2 separate regions of the Homo sapiens genome follow, and region 2 is linked to region 1. The links come from fine-mapping of genetic effects on plasma protein levels. A gene starts in region 1. The other region holds a variant in brackets. All regions are shown on one strand. Distances are from middle to middle.

Region 1 (2,828 bases):
GCCGACTCCCAGAACCCGGCTTTCCTTCAGAAAAGATGGATAGGCCGAGTTTGTGTGCGTGGACGTGCATGTGTCGGTGTGCATGTTTAGGGGACAGTATGTACCCCCAATTGCATAAAACACGCCTGTTTTTGGAAACAGAAACACACGGGGTTGCTTTCGGGTATGGGTGTGGTTAGTTTGGGTTCCTGCGCACGCTCCCTTTTCGGAGCAGCTGGTGAGGGCGCATCTGTTCCAGTGAGTGCTGGCTGTCTGATGGACTGTCTGTGAATGCAGAAGGCAGAGCGTGTGGTGGGGGTCCTGCCATGTGAGTGATGATGCGCGCACTGGCTGGTCTGTAGTCGCGAGTGGAACTTGTGTGAAAATTCTCAGGCTGACTCTCGCGCTGCAGCACCTGCTCCCCTCCGTGGGTGGCAGCTGGACCCCAGCGCGCTCAGCTCTCAGGCGCTTCAGCGAAGTGGGGTAGGGGTGTGGAACGAGAGAGATAGAGACCCGGGCATAGACCATCTCCGCCAGGCAGCTTGGCAAACAGGTGGCAGAGTTGCAGGGCAGCTGTGTAAGCCAACTTCGGCGCAGCAGTGGAGGGTCCTGGCTTGGCGTGGGGGATGCTGGACCCGCGGTCGAGGATTTGGGGATATAGGGGAAGAGGGAGGAGGTGGATGCTGAGCCTTGTATGCAGGCTATGTCAGTTTAGCCCTCTCCCCAACCTCTCTTCGGCTCCTGCCCGTCCCAGAGGAGTGAGGTGGAGAAGGGCTGGCTGCCAGACTGGCACCAAAACAGCCTTCTTTGGGTGCCCAGGTTGCCAGGGCTCGAGGGGTCGGAGGATATCCAGGGAAGCACCCCAGGTGGTCCAAAAAGATCAAATTTTGAGGACCCCTCCCTCCCCTTTTCCCTCCCCCCCCCTCCTTCCCTGCCGTGGGCTCTTTCAGCTGTGGTCCCTTTAGAACCCAGGACTACTACTGCTCAACCTCGCTGGGGGTTCGGGTGGCTGGATTCGGGTCCCTCACTGGCGTGACAGGAGGGAGTGCGAGGCAGGAATTTAGGAGCCAAGGAGGTGAGAGCAGCTCTGGCCCCTCACTGTAGGTGACGCCAAACTCTCCTCGACTTGCCCCGACTCTTAGTTGAAAAATCTCTGTCCTCTCCCAGGCTCTCCAGCTTCCCAAGCAATGACCTCAATGAAAAAAATGACAGCGGGGCGGACTGCCCCCGCTCCAGAGTACCAGTGCCGGCAGTGCGAGCTATGACGCAATCGGAGCTCGGTCGGTCCTTTGATTGGCTAGTCCTGGCCACTTTGGATTGGCCGCGCGGGCTGGTGGGGACCCCCCCCCTCCAGCTATCTCTGTAATAAGAGCGGGGTCTCCGCGGGGAAGGCGCCCACAGCAGGTGTGGTGTTCATCCCGGGTCGACCGGCCGCTCGCGCTGCCCTGAAACTCTAGTCGCCAGGTGAGGAACTTCCCATTCCCCATTCCGCTCACTCGAATAACCTGCTTCTTCGACTAGTTCATCCAGTTTGCTCCATCTGCCTGTCTGCCTCTCCGCCGCCATCTGGTCCTACCTTACAGCGGTGGTCCTAGCTCTCTTCCAGGCCCCGTAGAAGGCGAGCGGTTAGGGTTGTCCTGGCAGTTTCTCCTACCAGTGCGAGAGGAGCCCAAGCATCCCCATGGCTCAGCGTGGGCGCTGGAAGCGCAGCGAGCGGAGGTAGGCGGGTCTGCAGCCCTGGCGTTGGGGCCTGGCTGAGCGCAGGATTCTGCAGAGTTGGGTCCGGGAGCGCCCTGCGCCGTCTTTGTCCTTCGGGAGCATGTTTCGTTCCCGGGAGGTCGGAACCCTGAGCTTTCCTCTGAGGCGCCTCCCTGGTGAGCCTTCCCGGGATTCCGGTCCGGATCTAAGGCAGTGTTGTTAGCGGACTAGAACCCTGGGCGCTCACCTCGCGGAGCTGCTGCTCAGCATCTGCTGCTAAAACGCGCTCCGGCAGAGGGCTGGCTTTGCGGGCGAGTCCTGAGACACCCGTAACTGGCACGTTAAAAATTTTTCCCAGTTCCAAGACTGAGAAATGAGCGCTCCTTTCCAATCCACCCTTCCCACCTTCCCCTCGCATGCGTTGGCGCGAAGCCCAGCAGAGGAGAAGGCGAGAAGGGGAGAGCAGGTCTACAGCAAGGTGCGTCCACGCCTGGTTTAGGCATAAATCAGGGCAGAAGTGTCTGTTTGTGTGCACGGGCGCGTGTGGCTTCTCCCTGGCCTTCAACAAAACAGAACCAAAATTCATCCTTTCTCTCCACCCTTCCCCTAGGACACCTTTTTCCGCTCTATCAAGCCATTCACTCACTGCAATGTGTCTCTTGAGATTCACAGCAGCCCTTCCTGCAAATGAAGGGAACAGAGGCTCAGGCAGCTGAAGTAACGTGCCTAAGGTCACATGGCAGTTGTGGCAGAGGCAGGACTGGAACCTAGATCTGTGCTGGTGCAGTAGTAACGTCATCCTTCCTTTACAGAGAGGCGGCATGGGTTTCCGGAAGTTCTCCCCCTTCCTGGCTCTCAGTATCTTGGTCCTGTACCAGGCGGGCAGCCTCCAGGCGGCGCCATTCAGGTGAGACAGCCTGGAGCCAGAGGCGCCTTCTGCTCCCACTGCCCCTAGGACCAGACAGCTCTGTGCCTCTGAAGTCACGCGTGGCTCCTGGTGAATCAGTGCCCACAGGTGGACCCTGGCCTCATGCCCGTCCCCTGGGAGTCGCGGTGGCCACATCCCCAGGGGAAGAAGCAGAGACCAGGAAGCCTGGCTGCCTATCCTGGGGAGGGTCAGTCAGGGGCTCACAGCCTGCAAGGAGTTTGCT
Region 2 (2,908 bases), 31 kb after region 1:
CTCTCCCATTTACTTCTAGATCACTTTTATATACCTTCCTCAAACTCCCAGCACCCTCTCCACCATCCTTATTCTAAGCTTCTGACCTTGCTTGTTACTTCACTTAAAGGATGGCATCAATCAGAAGAGAGCCTCCACAGACTCTTAACAAAACATCTCTACACCTACTGGCATCTGAACATAGGTGCTCTTCTCCCTTGGTTGCCATCGATTAACTTTCTGTGCCCCTAGCTGGAGCCATTTCTTTTATTTGTGCAGCAGATCCCTCCCCTTTCCACTACTCAAAGGCATTGCTTCAGCCGTTACCTATCTCTGCCTTCACCTCGTACTCCCCTCACTCCTTTGTTTCACCTTAGTGTTCTTCCTGCTCTTGCTCAAAGATACCAGCCATACTCTTGCCTTAGAATATTTGCTTTCACTGATTCCTTTTTTTGGGAAAGCTCTTCTCACAGATTTGCATTATACATAACTCTTTCACCTCCATTTACATTGACTAGGCTTAAAAAATATCTAACTGTAGGCTTTTTACAGGAGTTACCTAAAACATGAGAATACAGAATGGCAAAAGAAAAAGAATGAAAATACAATATACCATGCAAACACTAACTAAAATAACGGCAGTGTAATTAATATTAATTTGACTAAAATTGACCATAAGACAAAAAGCATTAAGAGATAATGAGGGCTATCTTAAGATAACAAAATGTAACATTTCCAGCAGAATGTAATAATTGTAAACGTATATGCACCTAATAACATAGCCTGACAGTATATAAAGCAGAAATACACAATTATATTGGGACATTTTAATTCATCTCTCCCTTAATTAACTCCTCCTATGGGAATGGTCTATTTATATCTTTCTCCATTTACTAGGTTGTGAGGACTCCAAGGTAGAGACCCTGCCTTAATCATGGTTGTATTCCTAGTGATGTGCATGGTGCCAGGCATAGGATTGGTCTTTATTCATTAATGTTTTCTGTACTAGACTTTCTCTGGCAGTAGTGAGGTCACCATGTTCTGAAGCATTCTTTAGGAATGTTCTTACTCCTAGAAGGGACTTAGTCTTCTGGATTGAAAGCTGTCTCTCTCTGCACCCCACCCTCACTACCCTATCCTCATGGGCCTTGGGCATAGATGGGTTCTGGAGGGCCGGCGTTTTAAATCTTGAGTAGTGTTAATTGTAGGGAATTTAAAACAGATCAATTTTTTATTTCCTACAAAGTCCTGGGCTGGGCATGGTTTCTATTAGAAGGATCCTTTATAATGGATCCTCAATAATCTAATACATCCTCAATAATTTATCTGAGGGTTTGCATTAAGGCTTTTCAATTATTCAAATTGTCAGATTTTTCATCTCTTGGTGAAACTTTTCTGGAAGCTTCTATTTCAGTTGTTGCAAGTGCTTGATAGCATAGCTTCTGCCTTTGGCAAGCCCTTAGCCAAGGGCTGTAAATCTGGGCCTATCAAAACCATTATGGCAATTTAGAGGCTTTCTGGAGTTCAGTGCTTCTATACAGAGATTTAAATGAAGCAGTGTCTGTGGGGACTTAGAGAGTTTGTAGGTCTTGGTTTTTCTCTGGGTTCTGCTTATAAACCATTCAGCTGGGCATCCTCCCCCATAGCTTCTCTATCATCTCTGCTCTGCTCTGCATCTGGAAGAGCTGATCTTCAGACCGTAGCACCTGGACTCTCTTGTTCCCTGATTGGGTTCAGCCAGCAGAGGAACTGGCTGGAGATCAGAGGAAGGAGCAGAGACAGGTTAGGGAATTTCTTCTCCATTTCTCTTTGGAGCTATGATTTTATGATCACAGTTTCTTCTGGGTAGCCTCTTCCAAG[G/T]CTGCCCTGGAACACCAGTAAGTGATTTACCTGCTTGTCCCTCTAGAATTGGTGGTGGTAATGGGTTCCCGCAGTTGTCAGTCCCCGCATGCTTCAAACCACTTGCTATTATTTTCTTAACCCTGAACATAAATAGGCCTTCATTAAATTGTTGTCCAAATTTCAGCCGTGTGGCCCTCTTTCCCACTGGGACCTGCCTGGAATATGAAAATGAACAGAATATGCATTTTGCCTGAAAGATGGCCCCTTTCCTTACCATCTGTCAGCTCAGAGTCCTCATCAGATACACCTGGAAGGACTAGGTCTCAGGTGCTGTGGACTTAGGTGTGGAGATTCAGAGAAGGAAAAGACACTTGTGCAAGGTCAAAGAGATAAAAGATAAGCCTCAAGCCCTCATCCGCTGTGCTGTGTGCTTTCTGCTGGTGGGCCTTCTCTTTTAGCTGTCTTCACTGAGGAGACATGCAGAGGGGGAACAAGTGAGGACTTGTAAATTGGTAAGCAAAAGTAGAAAGCTCAAGCCAGCTTAAGGGAAATAAGAAAAATCTTGTTAGAATGTACAGGTGTCTCATGGGACCCCCAGGACAGGGAAGCTGTTGGTTCTCATAAACCAGGGATGGGAATGTCCTTCTCAGGGAAAATTATTGGAAACCCAAGTCCTCTTTCTTTTAAGGACTGGGTTTTCTGTTGGTTCTCTTTCTCTTTTTGCACCTGGTTCCTGGATGATCTCTGCCCCTCTTTGCTCTGACACATGGGGCAGCTACTTCCTCTACCATGCTTGAACCATTCCATGGCAGTTTACTAATATCTATTGTGTGCTAGCTACTGCACTAGAAGACACGGTCTCTTTTCTCATGGTATGGAAGGTGGGAGAGACAGACAGTAATCAAACAAATAAACAATCAAGGGAATTTCAGAGAGTGATAAGTGGCATTCATAGGAGAATGACCAGGGATGGTTCTTTGTAGGTCAGGGAAGATTTCTCTCAAGAAGATGATGTGACTTGAGACCCTAGAAGAGAGAAGAATTATGTAGGGTTTCTTGAGTCAGAAGAAAAGGTTTGCATTTTTTT

Direction of the effects. Alleles are on the strand shown, and positions count from the first base shown. The strength of an association depends on the size of the effect and on how common the allele is.
With allele T in place of G in region 2, the plasma level of the protein whose gene starts at base 1,373 in region 1 is lower (strong association).

Evidence for each region. A credible set is the group of variants that fine-mapping cannot tell apart. PIP is the chance, under the fine-mapping model, that this variant and not a neighbour inherited with it causes the effect. Protein levels are from antibody-based Olink assays in UK Biobank. Linkage for the fine-mapping came from a reference panel and not from the study's own genotypes, which makes the PIPs less certain.
Region 2: its variant is the best candidate, but not a certain one, in a credible set for the plasma level of the CALCB protein (UK Biobank, PIP 0.68).

What each region holds. Positions count from the first base shown.
Region 1 is chr11:15,072,221-15,075,048 of GRCh38, forward strand. It overlaps CALCB (calcitonin related polypeptide beta), which reads left to right and starts at 1,373. Exons shown (of 5, transcript NM_000728.4): 1 at 1,373-1,443; 2 at 2,490-2,584. The coding sequence starts at 2,499. RefSeq lists an enhancer at 2,275-2,776 and a silencer at 2,819-2,828.
Region 2 is chr11:15,103,359-15,106,266 of GRCh38, forward strand. No RefSeq gene overlaps it. Among named protein-coding and RNA genes, the nearest start is that of INSC, 10 kb to the right of the region's middle. The variant G/T (reference allele first, on the strand shown) is at 1,840.